2 separate regions of the Homo sapiens genome follow, and region 2 is linked to region 1. The links come from fine-mapping of genetic effects on gene expression. Tissue or cell type: whole blood. Region 1 holds a variant in brackets; the other region holds the start of a gene. All regions are shown on one strand. Distances are between the middles of the regions. Region 1 overlaps ATXN10 (ataxin 10). Region 2 holds the start of ATXN10 (ataxin 10).

Evidence for each region. PIP is the estimated chance that this variant, and not a neighbour inherited with it, causes the effect.
Region 2: it holds the start of ATXN10, and the variant in region 1 is fine-mapped to the expression of ATXN10 in whole blood (INTERVAL, PIP above 0.99).

Annotation. Positions count from the first base shown.
Region 1 is chr22:45,682,323-45,698,406 of GRCh38, reverse strand. ATXN10 (ataxin 10) reads right to left here. Exons shown (of 12, transcript NM_013236.4): 2 at 8,504-8,695; 3 at 5,329-5,411. Among named protein-coding and RNA genes, the nearest start is that of ATXN10, 19 kb to the right of the region's middle. RefSeq lists an enhancer at 1,886-1,985. The variant A/T (reference allele first, on the strand shown) is at 6,168.
Region 2 is chr22:45,663,632-45,679,715 of GRCh38, reverse strand. It overlaps ATXN10 (ataxin 10), which reads right to left and starts at 7,882. Exons shown (of 12, transcript NM_013236.4): 1 at 7,537-7,882. The coding sequence starts at 7,652. RefSeq lists silencers at 7,250-7,579, 7,910-7,959, 8,020-8,209.

The sequences.
Region 1 (16,084 bases):
TTTACAAACGGCCAATAAGTACGTGATCATTTAGGAAATGCAAATCAAAACCACAATGAAGTACCCCCACTTCACACCCACCAGGATGACTACAACACAGAAAGAAAGAGTCAGCAAGGATGCAAGAAATGGGAACATTCGTATGGTGTCGGTGAAAAGTCATATGATTCAGCTGCTATGGAAAAGTCTGACAGCTCCTCAAATGGTAAGCAGAGTTACCATATGACCCAGCAATTCTATTCCTAGGTATACACCCAAAAGAAATAAAAACAGATAAACAATTGGATGTACCAGCATGTTCACAACAGCATGACTCATGATAGACAAAAGGTGGAAACAACCTAAATGTCCAACAAACAATGAATGGATAAACAAAATGTGATATATCAAAACAACGGAGTATTATTCCACCATAAAGAGGAACGAAGTAATGATACACACTACAAGGTGGATGAACCTTAAAAACATTATGCTAAAGGCCAGGAGCGGTGGCTCACGCCTGTAATCCCAACACTTTGGGAGGCCGAGGCGGGCGGATCACAAGGTCAGGAGATCGAGACCATCCTGGCTAACACGGTGAAACCCCGTCTCTACTAAAAATACAAAAAATTAGCTGGGCGTGGTGGCGGGCGCCTGTAGTCCCAGCTGTGCGGGAGGCTGAGGCAGGAGAATGGCGTGAACCCCAGGGGGCGGAGCCTGCAGTGAGCCGAGATCGCCCCACTGCACTCCAGCCTGGGCGACAGCGAGACTCTGTCTCAAAAAAATAAATAAATAAATAAAAACATTATGCTAAGTGAAAGGAGTAAGACACCAAAGGTCACATAATTAATTCTATGATTCCATTTATATGAAGTATCCAGAGTAGGTAGATCTACAGAGACAGAATGCTAAGTAGTGGTTGCCAGGGGCTACAGGGAGGCGGAAAGAGAGCAGCTGCTCAATGAAAACGGTATCCTTTTAGGGTGATTTTTAGGCCGGACGCAGCGGCTCACGCCTGTAATTCCAGCACTTTCGGAGGCCGAGGTGGGTGGTTCACCTGAAGTCAGGAGTTCGAGACCAGCCTGGCCAATGTGGTGAAACTCCATCTCTACTAAAAATACAAAAATTAGCCAGGCGTGGTGGTGGGTGCCTGTAATCCCAACTACTCAAGAGGCTGAGGCAGGAGAATTGCTTGAACCTGGGAGGCGGAGACTGTAGTGAGCCGAGATTGTGCCACTGCACTCCAGCCTGGGCAACGAGAGCAAACTCCGTCTCAAAAAAAAAAATTTTTTTTTTAATTAGGTAGAGATGGTAGTTGCATAATACTGTGGATGTACTAAATGCCACTCGATTGTTCACTTTAAAATAGTTAACAATATGTGAATCTCACATCAATAAAAAACAATTAAACTCATACAAATGCAACTACCTAAATTAAGAACAACATTTAATACAGCTAACATGTAACAGGTCTGTAAGAATCTGCCCTCTCTGCCTAGTGAATATGAGTGAATAGCCAAGCTAACAACCAAATAACCAATTTACTCCTCAATGACAAACTGGTTCATAAAAGTAGTTTCAGATATCTGCTCCGTTAAATTTTTTCTTAGGTCATCTACCTGCTTCAGTGGAAAGTAATCCTGTGAAGGATGAAATAATCTTTTACCATATATTGTAAAAACTAAATACATCTTTTGTAGCACATTTGGGATAGAGCAGAAAAACGAGATACTGGACTGACGGGGACATGGAGTCAAAAGAAGATATTTTTAAATGAAAAATGGGAGGGCATATTACTTGCTGATGAAAATGATGGAGTAAAGAGGAAAAAAACAGAGGCTGCCTGAGAGCAAGGGGATAATTTCAGGAGAAAAGCTTCTGCGTGGGCAAGTGGCGATGAAATCCAGCACATGGTGGAGGGGCTGGCTCCATTCTAATAGTTATTTAATCACAGCATTTGTACAGCACTTCCCCTTTGCTTCTTTATTTAGCATATATCATTAAAAGAGAAACCTCCTTCCGCCCACCACAGCACAGCAGCTCTGGAGCGCCACACTGCCCGCCCCATCAGGATCACCAATTATAAAACACAGTACATTCTCAACTTTCTTTCTCAATTACTATACCACACAGAGACCTCAAAATAGCTGCCCTTCCAAGTGACACTGTGAAACACGGACTTTACTGCTAATTTATAATTCCCCAATTTTGAGTACTGATGCTTCCCTTTTATTATAAAATAGAGCTACAGAAGTATCTTTAAATATATAATATCGTAAAAACATTTCACAACTAAATCCTACATCCTTTCAATTTCTTGAGATTATTTTAAAAACTGATGCTCAAAAAAACATGGTGATGCACTTTGTCTGTAAATTCTTAAAGGAAGTAATTAATTTTTAATTACCATTTCCTAAAGGAATACTTCAAAATCAAATAGCAAGATCCAAGAATTTCTAGCAAACTGAGTTTAAAATGAAAACACTAGGAAATCACAGAAATTAAACCAAACCAGGCAGTGCTCTAACACGCTAATTTAGCCTATTTCACCTGTGAAAAAAGACCATCACCTCTAGTTCTTGTCTATCTACCAAGAGAAGCACACATATTAACATCAATAGAAATATGCCTCACGTGGCCAGGTGCGGTGGTTCATGCCTGTAATCCCAGCACTTTGAGAGGCCGAGGTGGGTAGATTATGAGGTCAGGAGTTCAAGACCTGCCTGGCCAAGGTGAAACCCCATCTCTAATAAAAAAATACAAAAAATCAGCCGAGTGCGGCGGCAGGCGCCTGTAATCCCAGCTACTCGGGAGGCTGAGGCAGGAGAATCGCTTGAACCCGGCGGGAAGGCGGTGGTTGCAGCGAGCCAATATCGCACCACTGCACTCCAGCCTGGGCGACAGAGTAAGACTCCATCTCAAAAAAAAAAAAAGAAATATGCCTCATGTTATATGCAAAGTACAGGCATTAAAACTGTATATAAAACAATTTGTAAGTCAAATAATATTTTAAATGCAACTGGAGACTTCTCATTTAAAGGTTATATTCATTGAATTATAAGGTAAAGACGTTATTACAATGACAATTTTTTTTTTTTTTTTTGAGGTGGAGTCTCGCTCTGTCGCCCAGGCTGGAGTTCAGTGGCGGCAATCTCGGCTCACTGCAAGCTCTGCCTCCTGGGTGCATGCCATTCTCCTGCCTCAGCCTCCCCAGTAGCTGGGACTACAGGTGCCCACCACCATGCCCGGCTAATTTTTTGTATTTTTACTAGAGACGGGGTTTCACCGTGTTAGCCAGGTAGATCTCCTGACCTCGTGATCCGCCCACTTCAGCCTCCCAAAGTGCTGGGATTACAGGCGTGAGCCACTGCGCCCAGCCAACAACAACAAAATTTAACCTATAATTTAGTACATCTAACTTATCCACCTGGAAATTTACATTAAAATTTTCTGGGGTTTTGTTTTTTTTTTTTTTTTTTTTTTTTTTGAGACAGAGTCTTGCTCTGTCACCCAGGCTGGAGTGCAGCGGCGTGATCTCAGCTCACTGCAACTTCCACCTCCCAGGCTCAAGCAATCTTCCTACCTCAGCCTCCAAGTAGCTGCGACTACAGGCGTGTGCCACCATGCCCGGTTCTTTTTTTTTTCGAGACAGAATTTCACTCTTGTCACCCAGGCTGGAGTGCAATGGCACGATCTCGGCTCACTACAACCTCCATCTCCTAGGTTCAATCAACTCTCCTGCCTCAGCCTCCTGAGTAGCTGGGATCACAAGCATGCGCCATCACACCCAGCTAATTTTTGTATTTTTAGTAGAGAGGGGGTTTCACCATGTTGGCCAGGCTGGTCTTGAACTCCTGACCTCAAATGATCCGCCCGCCTCAGCCTCCCAAAGTGCTGGGATTACAGGCTTGAGCCACTGCACCCAGCCTTTGTATTTTTTTGGAAACGGGGTTTCACCATGTTACCCAGGCTGGTCTCAAACACCTGAGCTCAAGCAATCTGTCCACCTTGGCCTCTCCAAGTGCTAGAATTACAGGCATGAGCCACGGCACCCAGCCTACATTAAGATTTTTTTATCAAATAATTTAGGTTTACCCATAAAGTATTTCAATTCCTGGCACAAAGAGATCATAAATTAAAAATCTACGTTTTTTTTTTAAACATTATGTTAAGATAATAACCACTGTCCAAAGGAAAGATGTTGATGCTAGAAGAACAAAGACCAAAACCATTCTACTAATGAGTCTAAAGAAGTGTGGTGTTTCTCTTAATCCCAAGTCAACAACCGTTAACAATCAGAGCTAAGTTCCATTTTCATCACACTAGATACTTGACTTAGACACTTAACATGTGGTTCCCCTCAACGGAATGTGAGTTCTCTAAGGACAGACACTTTTTGTCTGTTTTGGTCACTGTTTGAATCACACCCAAAACCTGGACCAGGGCCTGTCACATTCATAAATATTAAAAGTCTTACCACAGACTGAATGGCTTAAACAACAGACATTTATTTTTACACAGTTCTGGTGGCTGGAGGTCCAAGATCAAGGTGTCGAGAGGGCTGATTTCTTCTGAGGTCTCGCTCCTTGGCCTGTAGATGGTCATCTTCTCCCTGTGTCTTCACATGGTCTCTACTCTGAGCATGGCCATGTCCTAATTTCCTCTTCCTATAAGGATACCAGTCATATACCCTCATTTTACCTTAATTACCTCTTTAAAGATCCTATCTCCAAATTCAGTCACATTCTGGGTATTGGGGGTTAGGACCATGCTATGATCTGAATATCTGTGCCCCTCCGAAATTCCTATGCTGAAATCTAATCCCCAACTTGCTAGTATAAGATGGGGCCTTTGGGAAGTGACTAGGTCATGATGGTGCAGCCCTCGTGAATGGGATTAGTGCCCTTATAAAAGGGGCCCAGAGAGCTTGTTTATGCCTTCTGCCTTCCACCTTCCACCACAGGAGAACAAAGCAAGAGGCACCATCTATGAAGACGAGAGCAGCCCCCGCAAAACACCCAATCTGCTGGTACCTTAATCTTGGACTTTCCAGCCTCCAGAACTGTAAGCAATACATTTCTGTTGTTTATAAACTACCCAGCCTAAGGCATTTTGTTATAGCAACTGGAACAGACAGACTTCAACATACAAATGTGAAAGGAACAAAATTCAGCCATTCAGGAAGGGAAGTTGATACAACTTTATAATTCTTTAATAATTCACTATTAAAGTTTCCCTATCTCATGAAATACAGAACATGTGTTTCAATGAATGATGTTAATACTCAAAGTACTGGTTTTGAACCCTTTATAAAGATATAAATAATCCATGAATTATATTGCATGCTACCTGTCAACAGAGATTCCTGTTCCACTCGCAGTTCACGAAACAGAAGAATCAAATCAACAGCAACACCAATCGTATCCAAGTTCCTGGGTTTTTTAAAAAAGACAAAATTAGACATGTTCATTCATTCATATATTGTCTATGGCTGTTTTTGCACTACAATGGGAGAGCTGAGAAATCTGACAGAGATTACAAAGCCTAAATTATTTATTATCTGGCTCTTTACAGGAAAAATATAGCAACCCTAGCAGTAGAGGTTATATTTACATGCAGAGCTAACTGCTTCCAACAGCTTTCTTTGAGTACTTCCTGAAGTTTCCCATGACTCAGATTCTTTGCTTTATTGTATTTTACCCCATTCCATGCATTCTTGGCAAAAACAGTCCCAGTCCACACAAAGTGCAAAAGATGTAAAAAGATCTAGGCTTTAATAGCATCACACCTTTTGATGAACTCTTTAACGACTTAAAGTAAAACATCAGAAAAATATGTACTAGTTGCAATCTGAATCTTGACTGGCTCAGAAATACTGGCCTTAGTTAAGCTTGGCCACAAAGTCTTTACTAGAATCTTTGTAGTATTTCTAACTAGAAAATTCTTTTCTGAAAATTGCTGCCCTAAATGGTTGAAATTTTCCTTTAAAAATCAACAGTGAATAATAATACAATCCTAGAAGGGAAGAGGCAGAAAAATTAACACCCTTAAATGTTCATTTTCATTTCCGCCCAACCATAAGTTGCATGCAATAAAAAGATATCACAAACAGCACAGCCCTTGCTTTGCTGGCCCTACCAAAAGACCACCGATAACTTACTTGTCATAGTATTTATTTTTGTAATGTT[A/T]GAATTTTTATAGTTTGCATATATTACTCAAAAAAGAAAATAAAAATTGACTGCTTTGAAAGAAAGTATTAACATAAACTTGTGTTGTACATTCATTCCTGAGGCAGAGGCAGAAACATTTAATGTTTACTGAGCACACAATGTGCATTAGGCATTTACATAAGTAATCTCATTTACACCCCATAACCAGCCTGTTTGGAAGACATTGCTTACCTAGTTTTACAGAGGACAAAACTGATACTCAGGAAGACCAAGTCACCTGTCCAGGGTCAAGATGGAGCAGTCATCCACAACAAGACCAGTGTGTAAGGCTCAGGACAGCAAGGGTAGACTGCATTTTTTTTTTTGAGACGGAGTCTCACTCTGTTGCCCAGGCTGAAGTGCAGTAGCCCAATCTTGGCTCACTGCAACCTCCGCTTTCCCCGTTCAAGTGATTCTCCTGCCTCAGCCTCCAGAGTAGCTGGGACTACAGGTGTGTGCCACCACACCCAGCTAATTTTTTATTTTTAGTAGAGACAGGGTTTCACCATGCTGGCCAGGCTGGTCTCGAACTCCTGACCTCATGATTCACCCGCCTCGGCCTCCCAAAGTGTTGGGATTACAGGCGTGAGCCACCGCGCCTGGCCCAGACTGCTTTTGAGCTTAAGCTCAGAACAGTAAGGGCAGACTGCTTGTTAAGCTTAAGCTTTAGAGTCAGATGTCTGGATATGGAGAGAATGTTCCCAGCCTCTCTCACTTAACAAGTGACTCTCAGACAAGTTATTTAACCTCTCCAAGTTACAGTTTCATCTTTTGTAAAAATGAAAAAATTTCTTGAGTTTGTTCTAAGAATTAAAGAAGATACTACAAGCAAAACCCTTGGGACAAAGCCCAATGCCGAAGGCAGGCTCAACGAATGCTCACTCCCTTCCCCACCAAGATTAGCCAAGCACAAAGGTGTATCTGCCAGCCACAGTCAAAAGTTAGTTCTACGGCTCTCCTTTCCTTCCCCATCACACTAGAGCACCTTGTGACTGGAAAAGGACAAAAGAAACTAGCCTTCTGGCCAGATGCTTCTAGCATATAACTAGTTATGTTTTAGAATGTAGACTATTATTATCAAGATTATTGTTGTTTCTATCCATTTATCCTCAAATGGATGGCAGGTTTGGTTTAGTATTGAAGTTACACGACTCACTTTTTACCCTCTCTCCTTTGATCTTAAAAATCTCATTAATCATATCAAAGCCTCGGGTATATGTGTCTAACCGAAGGGAGTCCCTCAAGTGGCTTCTGGACCAGCCCAAGCTTACCCGTCACAGTGGTGACAGGGAAGCCTGGAGGCTCTGTCTACATCCAAGTCCAGGAAGGAAAGTGAGCATCCTGTTTGTGGCTTCTGACTTCAAGTAAAAATTTTTAATAAAAAGCAGGTTCCACAAAATCAAAGAAGAAAGATGCTGTGTTCTGGGAGGAGACGGTAACACGTAAAAGCAAAGAAGAGCACTGGACAGCTCGCCTGCTCATGTTTTAACTACTTTTAAAAATGTGCGCATCATAAAATAGGTGGAAGCAGAGCTTGGAACTTTACATGATCTTTAGGAAAGACAGGTCATCTTGTAAATTTACAAAATATGCTTCTTGTCCAAACACAAGAGTAACAAATTAAAACATTAAAAGTAATTAAAACATTTACAACCTGAGGTCAAGAACTGCATATAAACTTAGGCAGGTAAAATCTAGGAACAAAGACTCAAAATCAGCTTCAAAACACTATGAAGAACCAAATACCTCAAAACATGTGATAAAAACAAACAAGAAATCTAACCCCTAATGTTAAACACACTCCATTATTTTATACACTAGTCAGAGAGACTCCAATGGCAAGGCCTGTAGAGGGCCTCTCCCAGCAGATGTAAAGGGCAATCCTGCAATAACAGTGGGTGATACTATCATGCCAGAACAACTTTTTTTTTTTTTTTTTCCCTGAGACAGGGTCTCACAATGTGGCCCAGCCTGCAGCAATGGCATCATCTCAGATTACTGCAACCTCTGCCTCTCCCTGGCCCAAGCAATCCTCCCACCTCAGTCTCCTGAGCAGTTGGGACTACAGGTGTGCGCCACCATGTCCAGCTAATTTTTTGTATTTTTTTTGTAGAGACAGGGTCTCACCATGTTGCCCAGGCCGGTCTTGAACTCCTGGACTCAAGCAATCCTCCTGCCTCAGCCTCCCAAAATGCTGGGATTACAGGCATGAGCCACCTTACCCAGCCCAAAACAACTTCTAACAGATAAACCAAATGACAGAACCAGCATGCACATATACAAAGAAACAGAATCCAAGGTACGTGTGTAACTACCTGATTGAATTCTGGTTCACAGAACACTCTATGCAAGCATTGCGAAGACACCTGAAGCATTCTGTTATTAACTGCAGACTGGAAGCCAGGTTTTCCACTTGGGATGGATCTCTGCAGGCAAGCTCAACAGCATGAGAAGATTTCTTTAGGATATCCAGAACTCTTTGGAAGATAGTCCTGGGTGCTGTTTCTCTGAAAAAGGATAAAATTATCACGAATCAGAAAAAAAAGATTATGATTTCCAAATGTCCTATTCAGAAAACTGCTTTTATCTACTATTGTGGGGAGGTACGCTACGTTTATCTGCTTTAGCTCCTTAATTTACAACACCAAATAAAAGATCTACACATATTGAGCACTTACTATGCACCAGACACTGTTCTTGTCACTTCTCATGTATTATCTCAGTCTCTGCAACAGCCTTATGAGGCCAACACTGTCCTCTCCATTTACAGATAAGGTAAGTGAAGTAGAGATGGTAAGTAACTTGCACAAATCACTCAGCCAGTAACTGGCAGAGACACAAGGCCAAGTGAAGCACTCTGGCCTGAGCACTTCCACTACCCATGACAACCCAAATCCCAGTTCCAGTGACTGCTCATGCTTATGGATCTACCCTGAATCAGAACAGAGTATCTTTATTTAATGTTCTAGACAGAGAATATATTCTGGTCCTCTGTCACCCAATATGTAGCTAAGTTCAGTTATAAGAAACAATATTCCTGTAGGACAAGGATACTATCTACTCTGTAGACACAGTGAGGCTGACAACACACACACCAAACTTCTACAGTCAACTACATAGATGGGAGAGAAAGGAGAGGGGGAGAATGTAAAGTGTGCCTGTTCTTCCACCAAGAATGTATGCCCAGGGAGAAAGATGAACCTGTGGTTGTACCCTCTGGGCATCTCAGTCTCTGCGTGCCTCTCATGCCAGGAGTACTGCCTGCACTGGCTATCATTCCAGAGCTCTAAAGATAAGAATTTTTTGTGCAACATTGCACCTAAATGCAAGCCAACTTCCTCATTCCATAAATCCCCTAAAGAAACAGCAAATCTCTTTTAACGTTAGAAGGAAAGTTGCCACATTGGACAATTTAAGAGATTCTATAAATGCCAAATGATTCAGACCATATGAATTTTCTCCTTCTGCTCTCGCTGTAGATTCACAGTGCCCTACCTTTCACCCTTGGATTGAGCCAGACCAGCAGGGAGCCACATGTTCATTCAGAACTCTGGACACTGAGCTGCCCAGGTTACAGAGCTGCTCAGTTGCCGCAGAAGACACCTATGGAAGCCCCTTTTCCGGGGGCAGAGGAAACACGTCTTTCCTTGAACTTCAGTACCATGGCTTCTTATACACCAAGTGATGTGTGTTTTTATCTTACGAACAGACAATAGAACTCACATTATTTATTATGTTTTCTCTCTGTCGGGGCCTTTCTTAAGTCTGGAGTCAAATTTATGACCCAAACAACATGAATCCTTACTTTTTCTATCTGGCTTTTCCACTACCCCTAATTTCCCCCCTTATCTTTTTCTCGTATTTATTTTTTAAGGTATCTCAAACTTGGTTTTGAAAGAGGCAGAGTATAAATTAATTAAAAACTGGGAAACTGCACATAAAATAATTTGTCTATGTCTCCCCCAGTCAGCCCTGAGTGTAAATAATGAAACTTTGACTCAGTGTCTCGGCAACTGAGTGACCAAATTAAGAAATGAAAATTCAAGGGTACAGCACTAATCTTGCCTCAATAAACTGTATGAAACAAGTACATAAGCCATTTTTTAGTGACAGCATTGCCGTAAGAAGAATGGAAGAATACTCACTAACACTCTTTTTTTTGAGACGGAGTTTTGCTCTGTCGCCCAGGCTGGAGTTGCAGTGGTGCAATCTTGGCTCACTGCAACCTCTGCCTCCTGGGTTCAAGCAATTCTTCTGCCTCAGCCTCCCGAGTAGCTGGGACTACAGGCACACGCCACCACGCCCGGCTAATTTTTGTATTTTTAGTAGAGACAGGGTTTCACCATTAGCCAGGCTGGTCTCGAACTCCCGATCTCGTGATCTGCCTACCTCGGCCTCCCAAAGTGCTGGGATTACAGGTGTGAGCCACTGCACCTGGCCGATTCACTAACATTCTTAAGGTAGCTTTAAGGAGTACCAAATATATTGTAGACACTCATCAGCTAAGAAAATAACCAGGAGTTTAAAACACTATGAAGAATGCTAAGGCTGATCACAATTTCTAGGACAAAGAACAAAACTAATCACCTCTATTTGCCCCATCTGCATGAAGTTTTGAAGCCATTTATTATTTAATGCTATAGTCAAGTAAAAGTAGAGCTCTGCAACTTGAATAAGCTTCAATAACGCCTCTCTTTTCCTACTGAGATGACTAAGAATGTGTATTTACAGCTGTAAGAAAGCAGCGAGAATTATTTCTTTCACCTGATCCTTTGCCGTCTGCCTCTTATATGGGAACCACCTTTCCCCCGTGAATGGTCTTCCCTGAAGTCATTCCTTGCAATCGTAACATCTGTTTTACTCAAAATTGGTATCTAGCACAGCAAAAGCTTTGGAATCAAACTATGGTACAGACTAAACAAGACAGAAGAAAAGCAATATTCTTAAAGAAAATGGGAAAAATGATTTCCCGACCATAGAATAAATACTAAGTTCATGAACTATGTTGTGAATAATTCCCAATGCTACATGGTAATTTGTTATATATGCACCATGCCCTTATAATAATTTTAACCAAATGAAAAGCATTTAACTGAGCTAAGGCCAACCAAAACATTCCTGAAATCCAAATAACTATTAATAGCGACTAAAGAGTAATCATGACAGCATCTATTTGGCACACAATAATTCGCGTTTGCAGTATAAAGAAAAAATAATGTGGAGCTGTGATCACTGTCATATGCTCTCCCCAGGTTGTAAACCATGGATTCCTGAAAACCCCCGATTTCGCCAATCTTCTGTCTTTGCTCAAACATATCTCACCACCAGAAGAAAGTCCTCTCCAAATCTCCCAATCCTCTGCCTGGGAGAAACTTACATCTCCTTTTTTTTTTTTTTTTTGAGATGGAGTCTTGCTCTGTTGCCCAGGCTGGAGTGCAGTAGCGTGATCTCAGCTCACTGCAACCTCCACCTCCTGGGTTCAAGTGATTCTTCTGCCTCAGCCTCCTGAGTAGCTGGGACTACAGGTGCATGCCACCACGCCCGGCTAATTTTTTTGTATTTTAGTAGAGACAGGGTTTCACCATTTTGGTCAGGCTGGTCTCGGTCTCCTGACCTCGTGATCTGCCCGCCTCGGCCTCCCAGAGTGTTGGGATTACATGCGTGAGCCACTGCGCCTGGCCTGCATCTCCTTTCAAACCTTTGGGAAACTCAGACCTGGAGAAACTCCTCCACTTTTCCAGACAAACAGACTCCCTCTATGAAGCCCTGGAGATCTGTTCATAAGACTGGAATAACTTGTCCACATCAGATAAGATTTATATAACCTATCTCCCCGGCTAGACTGTTAAGTCCTTGAAAAATGGAGACTATCTTATTCTTTTCTGTATCTCTAGGGCCCAGAATTGGCACCCATTAATTGAATTTGTTCAAGTTTTAAACAGTGATGAGACTGTTTGCACACTCAAAAGTGGCCCCTGACTGCATCACAGCCTTGCTATGTAATCCAAGCACTTACAGAGCTTGTGCTCAGAGCCAGGAATCAAGCCTGACATAGGCAGTGAAATCAGTACCCTTTGAGTCAGCAACAGAAAGGGGAAAGTGAGGCATCAGCTCAACCCTCCCTTTCCCATTAAGAAATCCATATAATCTCTACTCAGAAACTTAAAAACGTGTCAGATTTTAAGATGTGAATATCATATAGATATTTTATGACTGCTGTTAAGCAAACATCGAATTTCTCCTTTCCCATTAAATGATACAGTGGATAAGCTTGAGGGTCTGGGAGGAGTTATAACCCAATTAACTGTATTTTAAATTTCTTAAGAGCAAAGAACATGTTTTAGATGTGTTTCCTTTTATAAATGGTGTCAGTAAAACTCTTCCTCTAGAGTCATATAATAAATATCTATAGCTTCTATTCACCATATTTTTATACAATATAATATGTCAACAACTTTCATCAGATGAGGACAAAGAAGCTTTTATTCAGTAACAGTAAATACTATGAAAGCATTTAACTCTTCTATACATCTTTACCTTCTCTACAGCCTTGAAAGAAAACTATTTGGCATTACAGATCCAGAATAGTCCTAGTATACTCTTGTCTGCAAAATCTACGTTCACTGTCAAGACAATGCAGCTAAATATGTGTAATGATTAACGACAATGAAATAGTAAAGATCAATCACTCCAATATTACAAAAGTTATTAATAATAACTGCTGTCATTTCTGCTTTAACCAAACTAACAAAAAATGTACAGCGACTTTAAAAAGCTTAGCTACTTCATTCACAGAAGGCGGAAAGTACTTACAAGGACAATTAAAATTCAACCGTTAGACATTCCTATTACAAAGGAATGCATACCCTGAAGACAATGTATAAATGAAATGTTACATTACAGAACCAAAAAAATCCTTTGAATTATACAAAAGGTAGAATTTCATTTCCCTCAAGTTTGAACAGATCTGTAGGGTTTAATCTTGGCAAGTTCTGTTTGAGTAAAATTAAAGAAAACTACCTGTGATTATATGTAACAGGTTAGATAGGTCTAATATACTGTATGCACACACATTTTACAGTTCAATCATCAGGTGGGACCTCCTACTGAAAAAAAAAAAAAAGCTACATGCTAGTCATTGTAATGCTACAACTAAGACCTTCATACTTGTTAAAAGATTTATTCTAATACCTTAGATTTACTTAAAAACTGGCATATGTGGTTTAGAGTAGTTTAACAACTGCCAGTGAGAAAAACTATTAAAATCCACACAAGTTCACAGATTAAAACAACAATCACTGGTTGTTATCTAAAACCATAATCTTGCTGATTTGACTGGGCAGGATTGAACAAAAACAGAAAATAAAAACATCTGTATCTCCTGCCACAAACAGCCTAGGGTAAAATTTTGAAATCTGCGCAGAACTCAAAACTTCTTTTCACACTCTTCTCTCCTCTTCTGTCACATCCAGGATTCCGAAGCCGTCCTGACAACCCAGACCAATCCATTTTGCAGGGTCACAAACTTTTTCTGTAAAGGGTCAGAGAGTGAATATTTCCAGCTCTGATGGCCAAACAGCCTCTGTCACACTCTCAACTCCCCCAGTGCACAAACGCAGCCACAGGAAACACCTAAACAAGTGAACATGGCTGGGCTCTAATGAAACTGTTTGTGGAAACTAAAATTTAAATTCATATAATTTTCATGTGTCATGAAACTTTATCATCTCCCCAACCATTTAGAAACGTAAAAAACCATTCTTAACTCATGGGTCATAAAAAAAACAGGTAGTAGGCCAGATCTGGCCATGGTCTGGCAACCCCTGCTTTAAAGGGCTCCAAACATACCAGTCCTCTCCCCACTCCCCAAAAACCACACACTTCCTCTTTCCCACTGTCCTCATCACATTGAAAATTCATCTTTCATCAGAACAAACGCACTGTGCTAAATGAAAGGAACTAAGGCGGCCAGGCGCAGTGGTTCATATGCCTATAATTCCAGTGCTTTGAGAGGCAGAAGCCAGGAGAGTTCAAGACCTGCCTAACATAGCAAGACCCTATCTCTACAAAAAAAAAAAAAACAAAAAAACTTGTTTTAATTAGCTGGGCTTGATGGTCTGTGCCTCGTAGTCCCAGCTACTTGGGAGCCTGATGCAGAAGGACTGCTTGAACCCAGGAGTTCAAGGCTATGGTGAGCTATGATCACAACACTGCACTCAGGCCTGGGTGACACAGCGAGACCTTGTCTCTAAGAAAACATGAAAAGAGAAGAAAATGAAAGAGAAGCTAAGAAAAGGTGAAATTAGCACAGAGGCAGAAAGTCAACCACTGGAAAAGACAGCCCAAGAGCAGAACTGTGTATACATGGTAACTTGGTAAATGGCATCTATCAATAGCATTAAAGACCTGGGGAAGATGGACTGTGCTCGAAGAGGTGCTGTAACAACTGTTAATCTAAAAAGAAAAAAACTGAATTGGATCCTTACTTACACTACCCAAAAAGTAACTCCAGGTGGATTTAGGAATTACATGGAAGACAAAATTGCAAGGCTTTGGAAGAAAATATAAGGAGAATGTCTTTACATGCTTAGAGAAAGATTTTGTACATAAGATATTATTTAAACCTTATTTTAAAAGTAGTATTTAAGCACAGATCCAAAGAAGGTGAGGGAGCCAACTATGCATCTTGCTGGGAGAAGAGCTTGGACTAGAGGCAAAGGCATACAGAGCACGTCACAGGGAAGTCAGGGCTGGCTTCAATGAACCCCAGTGAGAAAAGAGAAGTGCGACTCAGAGAGACAAGACAGAGCCACCCTGGACAGGCACAGTAGGCCACGGAAGGACGCTGGCTTTTATCCTGATGTGAAGCCATGGAAGGTTCTTTTTTTCGTTTTGTTTTTGAGACAGAGTTTTGCTCTGTTGCCCAGGCTGGAGTGCAGAGGCAGGATCTCAGCTCACTGCAACCCCCGCCTCCCAAGTTCAAGCAATTCTCATGCCTCAGCCTCCCAAGTAGGTAGAATTTCAGGCATGTGCCACCATGCCCAACAAATTTTTGTATTTTTAGTAGAGATGGGGTTTCACCATGTTGGCCAGGCTGGTCTCAAACTCCTGGCCTCAGGTGATCCACCTGCCTTGGCCTCCCAAAGTGCTGGGATGACAGGCGTGAGCCACCGTGCCCGGCCCATGGAAGGTTCTGAGCAGAGGGGTGACATCATCTGACTTACATGTTAAAAGGATCTCTTTGGCTGCTTTGTAAAGAATCAATCTTAAAGGGAGAAAGAGACGACAGCAGGAGACCAGTTAGGGGGCTGTTTTTGGAGCAGAGGGAAAGCAGCAGATACGGTAAACAGAAATCAAATTCTGGATATTTTAAAGATAGAGCCAATAGGACTTGATGATGGATTCTTATGAGGGTGTCTAAAAAAGGGGAGTGAAGGATGACATCAAAACTTTAGCCTGAGCCATAAATTGAAAGATGTATTTATTGTTTACAGAAACAAGAGTACTCTGAGGATATCTGGTGGATGAGAGGATCAGTAGAAATACAAGTAGAATGTGAAGTAGTCAGGTGAATAAACAAGTCTAGCATTCAGGAGAAAAATCTAGCTAAGCCAGGTGCAGTGGCTCATGCCTGTAATCCCAGCACTTTGGGAGGCCAAGGTGGGTGGATCACCTGAGGCCAGGAGTTCAAGACCAGACTGGGCAACATGGTAAGACCCTGTCTCTACAAAAAAAATTTAAAAAATAGCCGGGTGTGGTGGTGGATGCCTGTAGTCTCAGCTACAAGGGAGGCTGGGGTGGAAGAACTGCTTATGCCTGGGAGGTCAGGGCTGCAGATCGTGCCCCTGCACTCCAGCCTGGGTGACAGAGCGAGACCCTGTCTCAAAAAAAAAAAC
Region 2 (16,084 bases), 19 kb after region 1:
ACTTAATTGATGTTCTCTCTCAACAAAGTTGAGCTGAATCATGGTTGAGTCAAAACGCCATATGGCGTCCTCAGCCAAGCTGACGACTCGTGTGGGTTTTTGTTTTTTGGGTTTTTGTGTGTTTTGGTGTAGTTAAAGACACTTGCTGCCCAGAGGCTCAGTAATGTCCGGGGAAAATCCATGTGCGTGTGTATACACAGATGGATAGGTTTATTTTTTACCTCTGTGGTATGTTGACCTCTAAAGTGCTTAATCTATTCACTTTCTTTATGAAGGTTAGTCAACATATTTATACAACCAAGTAACAATACCAAGTCATTTTTTACCCCTTGAAATCAGTCATCTGTCATATTTAACGTTTCCTGTCCCCTCCTAATTAAAGTCTTTCTTGTATGCTCTCATTTTCTCTCTCATGGCTCAAGAAAATCAGGTGTTCAAGAAAATAATAAAAATACTATTGGATGCTCATTATGTGGTAGGCCTGAAAGTTGGTACTGAAAACAGAGGTAAATAAGAGTCCTGGCCTCGGGCTGCTCTCACTCTAGTGAGACTGGTAGGTAATTAAGTGATTATGTGAAGTTCTTTGAAAGAGGTAAGCACAGAGTGCCAAGGGAATACAGGGCAAAAGCACCTGAAGGTCAGAAACGGCTTTCAAAAGGAAGTGAAATGGTAACTCAACCTTGAGGGAAAATGAAGAGTGTGTATAAGCAAAGGAATGAAGGCTTAAGACATTTATATTTACAAATTTACAAATTTATTTTGTAAATATAAATTACAAATATACATTTTTAGCAAATTACAAATGTATTAAATTTAATAATTTAATAGCATGTGAGCTACTCCTATGTCAGTAGTTCAAAGTAAGCTACACATAGTTAATTTTATCCTATCAATCACAGCTGCAGCACTAAGCACAGATCTTACATGTATCATGTGTGGTGTGAGTCAATGAATGAATTACATGGTAAACTAATCAATAGCATTTTAGCAATTTGAGTAATTACTGATTGGCTCACTGGAGCTACTGGCTCTTCATTGCTCTATTCAGTTCAGTTCAACATTTACAGAGTACCCAAAATGGGCCAGGCACCCTGCTAAGAAACACCATAAAGTCCCTCCCTTCAAGAAAGGCACTACTGAGTAGGGAAAAAGATACATAAAAGGCTATTTTATTATGAAACAAAAATAGCAGTGAGGGAGGAGTTCACATTTTAAACACATCCCCTCTACTCCAAACAATGTGACTTTTTAAAAATCATAAATATATAGCTTCACATGCCCACCAAAATTCAGTGTCACTCATTTTCATTATAGCCATTCTAATAGGGATGCAGAGGCACCTTACTATGGATTTGTTTATAACAGCACTATTGAGATAGGGTTCACGTGGCACACTAAAGTCACCCACTTAAAGCGTACAATTAAATGGATTTTGGTACATTGTATTATTAATTTTTTTAACTGTGGTAAAATACATATATATAACATAAAATTTGCCATGTTGTTCATTTTAAGTCTACAGTTCAATGGCTTTAATTATATTCACAATGTTGTACAACTATCACCTCTACTTCCAAAATTTTTTTTAACACCCAAATAGAAACTCTGTAAACATGAAGCAGTAACTCCCAATTTCCCCTCTCTCCAAATCCTAGTAACCTCTAATCTACTTTCTGTCTCTACAAGTTTGTCTGTTCTAGGTACTTCATAAAAGCAGAATCATACAGAATTTGTCCTTTTTCATTTTCTTCGGGCACATACCTAAGAGTAAAACTGCTTGGTCATATTCCATGTTTAGCTTTTTGAGGACCCACCAAATTATTTTCCATAGTAGCAGCACCACTTTACATGTCCACTAGCAACACACAAGGGTTCCCATTTCCCCACATCCTCAACGATACTTGTTCTTTTCCATTTTTTGGATAATAGCCATCCTAAACGGCATGCAGTAGTCTCTCACTGAAGTTTTAACTGCATTTCCCTAATAACTAGTGATTTGGAGCACTTTATCATACGCTTATTGGCCTTTATTTTTCTTTGTAAAGCACAGATTTTGCCCAATTTTTAAATTGAGTTGTAGGAGTCTTTTTTATTGAGTTGTAGGTAGGAGTACTTCATATATTCTGAAACAACTTCTTTATCATATATATTTTAAATACTTCTCTAAGTCCAGGACTTGCCTTTTCTTTTTTTTTTTTTTAAGACCTTTTGGCCTGAATTTTTTTTTAATTTTTAAATTAAACACCAACGAAAACCTCATTTTGTCTAAGCAGATTGAAGAGAAAAAATGAGCTATACTGATAGAAGCTGAAAAAAAAAATTACTGTCTACACGACTAAGAAAAAGACCAAGCAAGTGCAATGAGTAATAAGTTATAGAAATAGCAGCAACTCCACAAGAAACTGATAAGCATCTGCCACTATCAACTCTATGCTAGATGCCAGGCATACAGTGAATGTGATGTGCCCACTTCATTCAAGAAGCTCATCAGGTGGAAGACCAATGAGGTATCAGTTTAAGTATGAGATGAATTTATAGAAAGCAGCATCCAAATGTTCCATTATTTCAAGAATACTCAAGAGTCAAAATACAATCTCCCCTATAGAAAACTTACTACAGAAGAGCACTATTTCCAGAACTTTCTGTGATGATGGAAATATTCTATATCTGTGCTGTCACATCACATGTGGCCAATGAGCACTTAAAATATGGCTAATGCCAGCCTGGGCAACATGGCGAGACCCCATCTCTACAAAAAATAAACAAAAAAATTATCTGGGCATGGTGGTGTACACCTGTAGTCCCAGCTACTGGGGAAGGAGGCAGGAGGATTGCTTGAGCCCAGGAAGTCGAGGATGCAGTGAACTATGATCGTGCCACTGCACTCCAGCTTGGGCAACAGAGTGAGACCCTGTCTCTAAAAAAATAGTAATAAAGGGCAGGGCACGGTGGCTCATGCCTGTAATCCCAGCACTTTGGGAGGCCAAGGCAGGCGGATCACCTGAGGTCGGGAGTTCAAGACCAACCTGACCAACGTGGAGAAACCCCGTCTCTATTAAAAATACAAAATTAGCCAGGTGTGGTGGCGTATGCCTGTAATTCCAACTACTCGGGAAGCTGAGGCAGGTGAATCGCTTGAACCCGGGAGGCGAAGGTTGCAGTGAGCCAAGATCACACCACTGCACTCCAACCTGGGCAACAAGAGTGAAACTGTCTCAAAAAAAAAAAAACAAATTAAAAAATATGGCTAATGCAACTAAGGAAATGAAACATTAATTTTACTTATTTTCAATTAATTAAGTAGCTACATGTAGCTAGTGGCTACTTAATGAACAGCACAGATGGAGTATGACAACCCATCTCACCTGGCTCTACACTTTGTGGGGTCTGGAGATGCCTCATGGATGCATCATAAAGGCAACTAGCCAGGTACGGTGGCTCATGCCTGTAATCCCAACACTTTGGGAGGCCGAGGCAGGAGGATCACTTGAGGCCAGGAGTTCGAGACCAGCCTGGGCAACATAGTGAGACCCCCTTCTCTAGAAAAAATGCACTCCAACCTGGATGACAAAGTGAGGCCCTGTCTCGGAAAAAAAAAAGAAAAATAATTAAAGGAGCAACTAAAATAGAATTTTAAATGTTTGTCTTACTTGTTCAGAAAGAATTTAACATGACTTGCAAAGACTCACAGCAAGATAAATCACTTGTTAAACAAATGTGAAATACGGTGATATCTACATTAAACAAAAAGTATAAAACAAATGTGAGAAAAAAGAATTATCTTACACAGAGAAGAAACAGCTGAGGAATATCTCAATACTGATATTATATGACCATAAGCAATATGTTTAAATTATTTTAGTGACCAAGACACTGTTTAAGAAGTGGGTTACAGAATGCATTTAATACACAGCATGGAGAATTAAGACTGGTGTATTAATGATGTATTGCTACATAGCAAATTAGCCCAAAATTTAGCATTTTAAAACAATAACATTTATGATCTCACACAGATCTGAGAGGCTTAGGGTGTCTCATGAGGTTGCACACGTGGCTGAGGATGTGACTGGAGCTCAGAGGACCTGCTTCCAAGGTAGTTCATCACATGGCTGTTCAAAGGAGGCCTCAGCTCCTCACCACACAGCTCTCTGCATATGGATGCTTGAGTGTCCTCATGACATGGCAGCTGGCTTTGTCAGAGTGGGTGATTCAAGAAAGAGCTAGCAAAGAGGAAACTACGATGCTTTTTATGACCTAGTCTGAGAAGTCGCACACTGTCACTTCTACCATATTCTACTCTTCAGGAGCAAGTCACTAAGTTCAGCCCACACTCAAGGAGAAAAGAATTAACCTCCTCCTCTTGAGAAGGTCAGAGTATCAAAGAATTTGTGGACATATTTAAAATTCCCACAATGGGATGTAAGAATTTCTTTTCACTTGGGGGCTGCTAAAATTGTAATGAGATCCTGAGATCCCCTTCTCCGGAAACCCCAAAATTAGAACTGTCTTCCTGAAATAGCTGCAATTTTTGTTTCTGATAAGACAGGAGATTCAACACAAATGGATTCTTGGTCACTTACAACCTTGTTATATTTTAATAACAGGTCCTAAATAAATGGCATTTACTATGCATAAACCACTATGCTACACATATAATATTACAGATCCTCAAAATAATCTGTCAAAGTGGCTACCATCATCCCGTTTTCAAGGAAAGAAACAAGAAGCCTCACAAACTAAACCAGGATTCACATCCAGGTCTCCATGGTTCCAAAGCCACTGCTCTTCCCACTGCATGACACTTCTATTACTCAAGCTACCACTGACAGAAGTTTGTTTTGTAGCATGGAAGAGCTCAGAAGGACCACCAACTACATTATGTCTATGATTCTTCAAATATAAAATGGAATCCTAGAGAAATAATGTATTCCACCAAAAGAGAAGAATCTCTTAATTACTTTCCTCACTGTTTTTGCTTTTTGTCTGCTGTTTTCTATTTGCTACACTGAGGACTCATTTTGCCTGGCTTTTTGTCTCGTCCACCTTCTAACACCTTGGCCCATCCTCCCCCTGGATCCATCTGTGTTCCTGTTCATACTAGACAACAGCCCTATGTCCTCTCTGAAGAGGAGACCCCCAAGGACAAACACTGGCTCCCTGAGCATCAGAACTGGAGGGATCCTCTCAGAGGAGCAGGAGTCTGGGCCCAGCCCCACAAGACCCTTATAATTTGTCCAAAGACAAAGAGAAGCAGTGACAGAACCAGGACCAGAAGCCTGTCCTTATAAACCCTGATCATGAGTTCTCTGCACCACCACACAACTGTGTCTTTCCATGCCAGGACCTGCACATCAGTTCACCTTTCCTGGTCTCCAATCTCTGCCTGGAACAAGGACACTGTCCCAGAACTCAGATGAAATCTGGGAAGCATCCTCATTTCCTCATTCTCCCCCCCACAATCCAACTGGTCCGAGTCCTGTCCATTCAACCTTGTATCTCTCAGTATTTATTCTACTCATCCCCACAATGTCCTAATTTAGGCACTTTTCTCTTTCACATGGGCTTCCGCTACCACTCCTTAAAGGTCCCCCCTGTCTCTAGCTTCGTCCTCTCATTTATTCCCCACAATGGAGGCGGAGGCGGCCAGGAAGATCTAACAGGCAGATCTTATCGCGCCACTCCCTTGACAAAAACCATCAATGGTTCTCTGTAACTTCTTCCCTCACAAGAGATAGAGTCAAGAAGGGCCTTCTAAACTGGCTCAGGGGCTTGGATTTTCTCCAAGTTATAAAAAGGGAACTGATGTCTGACTAAATGTCTCTTCTGTACGAGAAACCTTATCTATGTTACTTAATTGTCTCATCGGTTTTGCAAAATTAACATATGGCCCCTTTGCAGACACTGTTCCCTCTAGTCCTCTCATCTATAACCGAGCACCTGAAATAACCTTAAAAAGCCTCTCCTGGCTCGCCAATCTTCCAACATATCCACATGCTCCCCTGTGCCACCACCTCTTGTATAGATTTCCATTACAATGTGTTTATTTAGCTATTTCCCAAATATGCCTGATAAAAGGGATCACTCACATCATTCCTCTCTGTACCCTCAGACCCCAACAAAAAAATCTGTTTCATAGTAGGTGCTCAATAAATGGTTGATGACTGGGTTATTAACTAAAAGGAGGGTCCATCATGATACAGAAATGCCTAAGCATTAAATCAATAAATACATCTCCCCCAAAGGCCCATAGAGCAGTACCAGGGACTTTTATTAATAGCATTCCTTCAGCAGCTCCACATTTCCCAAAGTGATGTGAGGTAAAGGAAGTGCTCAGACCAGGTGTCTAGTTTAAAGAGAGGAAGTCCTCTAGTGATCACCTAGGCTGACCCAAGTCTCAGTATTTCTTTCTTCAATGTTCCCTCTGCTTTGTACATACATACCCCCACAGCTGTGTTATCTTGTACATACTAGTACAGGAGAGAGCAAGGACTTTCCATTTTCCTACCCCATCACCTAGCACAATAGCTGATACATGGGTAACTACCAATCAATGTGTTAAGTGATAATATCAGCTACATTTAGTGCTATGTACAGGTATGTCCTAAGGATTTAATATGCATTATATCTCATTTACTCCTTATGACACTATCACCAGGGAGGTACTGTTCAACTTTACTCCCATTAAATAGACAAGAAAACTGAGGCCCAGAGGACAGAACAAGATCAAACAAGCATTGACTGAGGGCTTCGCACATTTTATATTTTCACGTACTTTATTTCATTTATTCCTCTGTACAATCCAGCAACTAAGCTGTGTATTATAGTCCCATTTTTAGACAAGAATTCTAAGGCCTGGAGAAACTGCACAGTAACACGCAGCTTGCAAGGCCAGGAACCAAATCCACAACTGTCGACTCCTGGGCACCTTCTCTTTTTGCCTGGCTATCTTGCCCCTCAGTGGCATCAGGACTGGACTGGTCTCTCCAGGCCCGTGCTCTTCCACACTGCACAGAGCGCTGCCCCCAGGGCAGATGGTGCAGCCTGGGCTCTAACGCCGAGGAGAAAGGAGTGCCAGTCCCACTCCATGCCTAGAGACTGCCATCCCCGCAACTGCCCAATTCCCGCGTCCGTAACACGGGTCTCTCCCGCTAAAACACACGCTTTATGACTCTGGGGGCCGCGTGGGTCTTGCAGCCAGGGCCTGGCGCAGCCCTCGCACATGACAGGGGAGGCCTAACCGTGTGTTGGGTCAACATCACCGGCACGCCGCGGCAAGGGCTCCCGGGATCGCGGCTTCGCACCCGGACTGGCTGCGGTGGGGGAGCGGGGCGCCCGCCCCAGGCCCCGCGGGGACCCACGAGCACGAGGCGGTGCCTGGGAGTCGGGAGGCCTGGGTGGCGCTCAGGCAGCCCGCGCAGGCCTCGCCCTCCGCGTCTCCAGCGAGGCGGGGGCGGCGCCTGGGTCCAGGCCGGGGCCGCCGCGGGAGTCCCGGCCGCCCTCCCCTGCCCGGGGCAGCCCCCCGGCCGGACCCGTTACCGGTTCCGCTGCTCTTTGAAGAGCGCCGTGAGCGCGCGCAGGGCCTCCAGGTCTTGGATGGGCGCCGGCACCATGACGCCCGACAGCCTGGCAGGCGGCGGCCTGGGCGCCGCCATCTTGCCGCTCACAGCTGGGTCGAGCCTGACGAGGAGGAGGAAGGCGAGGAGGACGAAGGGGGAGGATGACGAGGAGGGAGGAGTAGGATGGCGAGGAGGAAGGGGGAGGCCTCGCCCTACACAGCCCTAACCGCCGCCGCCGCTGCAGCCCGCGCTGCCCTGAAGCTGCGCCGCCGCCGGAGAGCTCTAGGCTGAGCCCAGACTCGCCTCAGGCGGGAGGAGGAGACGGCGCCGCGGGGGAGGGGGCGCCGGCGGAAGTCCCGCCTGAGGGGAGGGGGCGCGGCGGAAGTTCTGGGTGAGAGCGGGGAGGGATGCTGGGGGTGATTGACTGGGAAGCGTCGCAGACGGGGCTCCTCCGAGGGGAGGGGACGCCGGGGGGAGGGGGACCTGTGTTGATGTGGCCGTAACAGGGTCTCGGTCTTGGGAGCGGGTATCGGGAACCAGAGGTTCACCCTGAGAAAGAGGGGCGCGTCCTATAGGAGGGTGCCCGCGGACAGAGGGGTCTCCCCCAGGGGAGGGGATCCGGGGGGTAAGGGGCCTGTGGAGGGTGGGGCCGTAACAAGGTCTCGGTCTTGGGAGCGGGTATCGGGGACAGAGGTTCACCTTGAGGAAGAGGGGCCCTCCTGTGGGAGGGGGCCCGCAGACAGAGTGGTCTCCCCCAGGGGAGGACATTCTGGGTGGAGGGGACCCTCTTGGGAGGAGACGCTGACTGAGGGTCTCGGGAACGAAGGGGGCCGGGCAGAGGCTCCCACTGCTAAGGCTGAAGACCTTGATCCCACTGCTCAAGTGGGTTGATCAGTGCCCCCGCCCGGGTCCACTGGAAGCTGGAGCGGTCTGTCACTAGCTTGCAAGTCTCAGGCCCTGAAAACGCACTTCCCAGTACTTACTGATCATTGCTGATCAATACCAGACCACTTACCAGGCACTTTGCCTCTAGTGAGTATACATTGCTCCAGCTCCTCAAAGCCTTAAAATACCGTTCGAAGTCAAGAAGCTAAGTTACACAGCAATAGGGTTAGAATTGTTTTTTTTCCTAAGGGAAATGAATATATTTCACAGGAATCAGACAAGGCTTCTCTAGCTGGTGTTGATAACTCACATATTTTCTTTCCACTGCCCTTTATTACAGTGTATATACTTTCAACAAAAATTGTTGCTAAGCCCTGCGCTAGGTGCTGGAGATGTAAAGATTAATAAAAGACAGTTCCAAACCTGAAGGAACCTCACAGACTATTGAGAAGGAGAGAAGCAAACATAACTGAGTATAGTTGTGAACTGCTATAACTGTACAAATTGCTGTGGGACCACTTAAAATATATAAATACATACCCTTTACATTCTGCTTGGAGGGTAGGAGTGTGCTTATAACATGGCGCTTTTAACATTCTTTGCTAAATAAAATGTAAAGATAACAATAAACACCACCAGAGTATGCAGAAAAAGTGAATCCTGGTGGGGCATGGTGGCTCATGCCTGTAATCCCAGCACTTTGGGTGGCCAAGGCAGGAGGATTACTTGAGCCCAGGAGGTCGAGGCTGCAGTGAGCTGTGATCACACCACTGCACTCCAGCCTGGGTGGCAGAATGATACCCTGTATCAAAAAAAAAAAAAAAAAAAAAAAAAAAGGAGGGAGGGAAATGAATGCTGCTGCACAAGCAAGTTACTTGATATTGTCATTCAGTTTACCCATTTAATTGAGTATGTATTTATTCATTCCACGAATATTGCGGTGTACTATGTGCCAGGTATTAGATCACTTATTAGTAGCAGTGCTCAAGACAATGCAAAATGTTTAACACTCCTTAAGCTAACAGGGCAAAAATCTCTTAATTTTCCCTTGAGGAGCACAGGATAGTAAAATGTACTTGTTATGCACCAAAATCCTGATCTTTAGGCCAGACACGGTGGCTCATGCCTGTAATCCCAGCACTTTGGGAGGCCGAGGCGGGCAGATCACTTGAGGTCAGGAGTTCAAGATCAGTCTGGCCAACATGGCAAAACCCCCTTTCTACTAAAAATTAGCCAGGCATGGTGGCGGGTGCCTGTAGTCCCAGCCATTTGGGAGGCTGAGACAAGGGAATTGCTTGAACCTGGAAGGCACACGTTGCACTGAGCTGAGATCATACCACTGCATTCCAGCCTGGGCAACAGAGGGAGACTCTGTCTCAAACAAACAAACAAAAAAACCTGGCCTTTAGTTTTCTTATTCTCAAATGTAACATTCCCAGAAAAACATTCCCTATAATATTCATACTTCTTGCCTGGAATATTGTAATATATTCCTGATTGGTCTTTTGGCCTCTGCTCTTGCTTCCTTACGTTTTAGATCGTTTAAAAAATATTTCAACATTTAACTCTGCCCAAAACCCTCTAAGGGATTTCCATTTCACTCAGAGTAAAAGCCAAGTTCTTCCAATAGAAAAGCCCCTAAATGACCTGCCTCCTCCTTCGCCATCACCTCCAGCCCCTGTGGGCTCTAATCACATCTACTAGCCTCTTCCTCTTCCATTGTGCTTCAGCCATACTGACCTCCTTATTGTCCTCTGTCTATTTAAAAGGAATAAGCTGAGGTAAAATCAATATAAAGAGTTTATTTGGGCCAACGTGAGCATTGCAGTCCAGGACACACATCCAAGTTGCCTTGGGGAGTGCTCTGGAGAACGAAAGAGAAGCTCAACTTTTTAAAGAAAAAAGGACGAATCAGGAGAGAGGGTGATTTAAAAGGTTGTTTGTCATGAATTCTCATTGGTTTAAGAAATAATGTTGGTTAATGATTGGCTGTACAATGTTGAACTATAGATTGTATGCCATTGTGTAGCTAGTTGACATCAGTTCGTCTAGAGGCCAAATAGAATGTGGCTTCAAGAGGTAATTAGGCCAGGCATGGTGGCTCATGCCTGTAGTCTCAGTGCTTTGGGTGGCTGAGGCAGGAGGATTGCTTGAGCCCAGGAGTCTGAGACCAGCCTGCACAACATAGTGTGAGACCCCCCATCTCTACGAAAAAATTTTTAAAAAATTAGGCATGGTGGTACATGGCAATAGTCCCAGCTACTCCAGAGGCTGAAATGGGAGGATTCATTGAGCCTAGGAGTTGAAGGCCTCAGTGAGCTATTACCACACCACTGCAGTCCAGCCTGGGTAATAGAGAGAGACCCTGTCTTTAAAAAATAGTAATAATTCCTTTTGAAAAGAGGTAAGTATTCAGCTCAAGGAGGAGAGACATGATTGGTGTTTCATTCCAATGCTTCTCTAGGCCCGATCATTTAAAGGAGATCATATTCCTCAGATAAAGTTTTGTTTTTCCTTTTTTTTTTTTAAATCCCATAACTCCACCAGGAAAAGAACTCTCCTGCCTTAGGAGTTTGTATATGCTGGTGTTTTTGTTTTTGTTTTTGTATAGAACAACTCCTCACAAACATCTCCATGACTTGCTTCCTTATTTCCTTCAACTACCTGTTCAAATGATCTTTTAACAACCTTCCTGATCAATCTATTTAAAATTGTAACAGGCTACCCAAATTCCTGATCCCCAGGAATTTTCCGCATAGCACTTAATACTTGATATATAACTTACTTTTCTATTTTGTTTATTGTTGCTTATCTATTTCACTTACTACTAGAATGTAAGCTCTACAAGGGTAGAGATTTTTGTCTCTTTTGGTTATTTTTGTATCTCCAGCCCAGCACCTAGAAAAAGACCTACTATGTGGTAATTGCTCAATAAAAGTTGAATTAATGAACAAAGAATCTTTTTAACTATATCAGCAGAGGCCGGACGCGGTGGCTCATGCCTGCTTACGGTTGTAATCCCAGCACTTTGGGAGGCGGAGGCAGGCAGATCGCCTGAGGTCAGCAGTTTGAGACCAGCCTGGCCAACATGGTGAAACCCCCATCTCTACTAAAAATACAGAAAAAAATTAGCCAGGCATGGTGGCAGGCACCTGTAATCCCAGCTACTCAGGACGCTGAGGCAGGAGAATCACTTGAGCCTGGGAGGCAGAGGTTGCAGTGAGCTGAGAGCACGCCATTACACTCCAGCCTGGGTGACAGAGCAAGACTCCATCTCTAAATAAATAAATAAATAAATATACATATATATATATATATATATATATATCTGCAGAAAGGAGAAAGGAGATAGCATGCCTCTAGAAGAAGTGCAATAATCCAAAAAGTACAGAAAAGGAGGCTGATGGAAAAAGAAGAAAAATTATAAGGGAAAAGATTAAAACAGAGAGATTAACAGGACAGACAAAAAGTAGAAATACGCATAAGAGAAACGAAAGGAAATTAAACTGGTCAAACAGTGGATGTTATTGACTGCCCAAAATCGACTAGAGGATTTCAACCTTGACTGAATTGACAGAACCAAGTTAATATTTCACTAGGGCTAAATGACATTGTTAATGTTATATAGCTGTTTGACTTAGACAAACCAGATGAACATGCCACCATGTTGATGTACGTGAATTCGACTTCAAATGAAATTTGTGATATAAATTTGTACCTTGAGCCCACTGCAGAAGAATTGAATCAGCAATGACTCAGTAATCAAGAAGGAAGTAAATACAAAGAAAAGAAAAGGAAGGAAGGCAAAAAAGAAAATCAGAGAAGAAAGTAGATGAGGTGCAAGGCAAAAACAGATTTGGACCAAAGTGCATATGATTTTGGCAAGGAAAAGAAAGAGGAAGTAAGTGAATACTGGTAAAGAGAATAGAAGATGAGGCCGGGTGCGGTGGCTCACACCTGTAATCCCAGCACTTTCGGAGGCCAGGGCGGGTGGATCATGAGGTCAGGAGATCGAGACCATCCTGGCTAACAAGGTGAAACCCGTCTTTACTAAAAATACAAAAAATTAGCCAGGCATGGTGGTGGGCACCTGTAGTCCCAGCTACTCGGGAGGCTGAGGCAGGAGAACGGTGTGTACCTGGGAGGCGGAGCTTGCAGTGAGCTGAGATCACACCACTGCACTCCAGCCTGGACAACAGAGCGAGACTCTGTCTCAAAAAAAAAAAAAAAAAAAGAGAGACTGAGTAGAAGATAAGTGACAAGTGGATAGAAAAATGTGTGCTTCTGCTGGCTTTTCTGTTGGAAACATCCTTCTTAGCATCTCTGCCTACGATGCTCTTGCTAGAAAGCTTTTGTCATATATCACCAACTCCACAAGATCTCATGTGTTCTTCAGAAGAATCTCTGGTCAGCCTGTGCCTCTCTTTTGGCACTGACTTTCCATAGTCAGCCTGTGCTATAGATGTGTGTTTATGCCCTCCTCTTCCACATCTGAGGTCCCTCAAGGCAGGGATTTTCTCATCTTCATCCCAGCCCTGTGCTTAGAAGCAATGCTATCAATATCTGTTGAATGGAAAACTCTGGAGATTGAGAAAAAGGAGAAAAAAATAACAGAGTAGTGTACTTGTTCAGAGCAGGGATTGGCACACTATCACCTATGAGCCAAACTCTTCCCGCCACCTATTTTCGTAAATAAAATTGTGTTAGAAACTGTCATAGTCATTCATTTACATATTCTCTGTGGCTATTTTGGCACTAAAGTGGCAGAATTGACTTGTTGCTACAGAGACTGTATGGCCTCCAAAGCCTAAAATATTAACTATATGGTTCTTTTTAGAAAAGGTTTGCCAACTTCTGGTAAAGAACATGAGCTCTGGAGTCAGACAGACCTGGGTGATGTGAATCCCTCTTTTATCTCTTAGCACCTGAACTTGGACAAGTAACCATCTCTTTAAGCCTTTTTTTTTTCATTTGTAAAATGGAATAGTAATAGCACCTATTTAATTAAATTGTTGGGAAGATTTGATGATAGTCAATTCAGAGTCTGTCATATATTTAGCTTAGTTCAATACGTGTTAACAGCGAACTGTGTGGTGTAAAAGTGAGAAAGTAGAAAGAACGAAGTGGGCAAGGAGATCAAAAGCTGTTAGGTAGTTGGGCAAATGAGAAACAGTAGGAAACACGTAGGAAATCGTGAGTACGGTCAAGATATAATTGGTAATAAGTGACTGACAATAGACTACCGGTATTTGAGGTGATGATTCTGATGTTAGTAATAGTTGCCTTGTGGGGATCAATTATTTTTATGTAATTTGTAAAGTTATTAAGCTATTCCTTATGATTGTTACCAATCCATTTTACATTTTATTTTTCATATTTCAATTTAACCAGAAGATTTGAGCATCTATCATGGACTATATTAGAACCTAGTCTTATGAAGATGAATAATATAATACCTTAGTCATGAATAACCTCTGAGTCTATTAAAGGAAAACAGAAATATATACTGATAAGATAGCATAATAAATCATGTCAGAAAAAAGATGTATAAAGAGCTAAGAAGCTGGAGAGATGAAGAAATACAACTAGAGAAACCATGTAAGCTGAATCTTAAATAATTGTATGAGCACTAGACAAACAAAGGTGGAAATACATTCCAGAAAATGAAGCACCAAAATATAGCCTCAAACCAGCTGACTTTATATATGGTTCTACCAAACATGGAGAAAAGATGTAATCCCTGCCTTATACAAGAAGCTTCATAAAACAGAAAAAGCTTCACTTCTGGTAATGTCACGCCAAGTTATTTAAAGCTATCCTCTGAATGAGAAAAACTTTTATTTTAAACCCAAATGAAATATTTCAAAAACCTCTTTGTCACCTGGTTGATCCAAGGAACCAAAACACCTGAATTGGGATTAAGACAGACCCAGAATGGTGGCACATTTAGACACATGACAGAAGCAAATGAAAACCATCTTTGGAAGAATGTGCCATCCTAAGCATCAAATTATTTCTACAAATACTTCTCAAATAGAGTGAACAACACAAAAATAACTCACTCTACAGGGAAACCAGAAATTATAAGAACCAGCAGAAGCAACATACAACAGAAACTGATCCACAAAAACTTAAGCTATTGGAATGGAACATGGCAATGACACAACAGGTTTACTATGTTCAAAGAAATAATTCGGCCAGGCGCAGTGGCTCACGCCTGTAATCCCAGCACTTTGGGAGGCTGAGGTGGGCAGATCATGAGGTCAGGAATTTGAGACCAGCCTGGCCAACATGGTGAAACCCCGTCCCTACTAAAAATACAAAAAATTAGCCGGGCGCGGTGGCATGCACCTGTAATCCCAGCTACTTGGGAGGCTGAGGCAGGAGAATTACTTGAACCCAGGAGGCAGAGGTTGCAGTGAGCCGAGACCACGCCACTGCACTCTAGCCTGGGCAACAGAGTGAGACTCCATCTCAAAAAAGAAAAAAGAAATAGTTCAAAAGTCCAAGCAAGGTATTGAACTATAAAAAGTGAAATAGTGTATTTATATAATAAATAAATAGAAATTCTGGAACTGAAATTAGAAATAACACAGTAACAACTCAATTGATGGGATTAAAACAGGTTAGAGAGACCTAAAGAGAGAATAAATGAACTGGAAGATTTAGAAAGAAACTATCCAGAATGAAGAAATTAAAATACAAAAAATACAGAAGAGCTAAGAGATGCAGAAAATAAGTTGAGAAAGTCTAACACATGTAATTGTAACAGAGGCAATACCTAGGAGAATAGCTGAGAATCTGCCAAAACTGATGAAAGATTCCAAACCACAGATTCAAGAAGCTCAATGAATAGAAAGCAGAATACACGAAAAGACATCTAAATATAAACACACCATATATTCACATCTAGTGAAGTTATGCAAAAAGACAAAGACAAAATCTGATAAGAAGCCACAGGGGAATAAAAAGACAGTTTATTTTTAAAGGAGTGAGGATTCAGTAAGCTGTATCCTCCACAGAAACACTGGAAACCAAAATAGTGGAATGCTATCTTGGATGTGCTGAAAAATAAAAATAACTGCCAACAGATCCATGGTAAAGGAAATACAAAAGAGTGTGAATTAGAGACAAAAACAATCCCAGATGGAAGATGAGAGACACAGAAAGGAATAAAGAAGACTGAGAATGGTATTTACCATCCGCTTCATCTAAATGAACATCCAAAGTACAAAACAATCATAAAGCAACAATGTCTCATAGGGTTTAAAATAAAAAATTAAAATATTCATGACATGGCTCTGCTCCAAACCATCATAACACTACCTGGGACTTTTGCCTTCTGCTGTCCCAACTAGTGACCCCAGGACTCTCAAAAGACCACCTCTGTAGGAACAGGCCCAGGTTTATCTCCTGCCTAAGGACTTCCTCTGCCTTATACTTCCCAGCAGCCAAGATCACAGAAAGTCAAAGGCCAGCAAAGAAAGAAAATCCATTGACAGGAAAGAAGGGAAATCCATTGAGAACAGTCTGTAAAAGCCAGAACGGTTTTTTGTGAAATGAGCTTTGTCAAGTCAATCAGTACCAAACAATATTTGGATATTATTGGCACTTTGTGCTCCCTCTGCCTGAACTGGGAATTC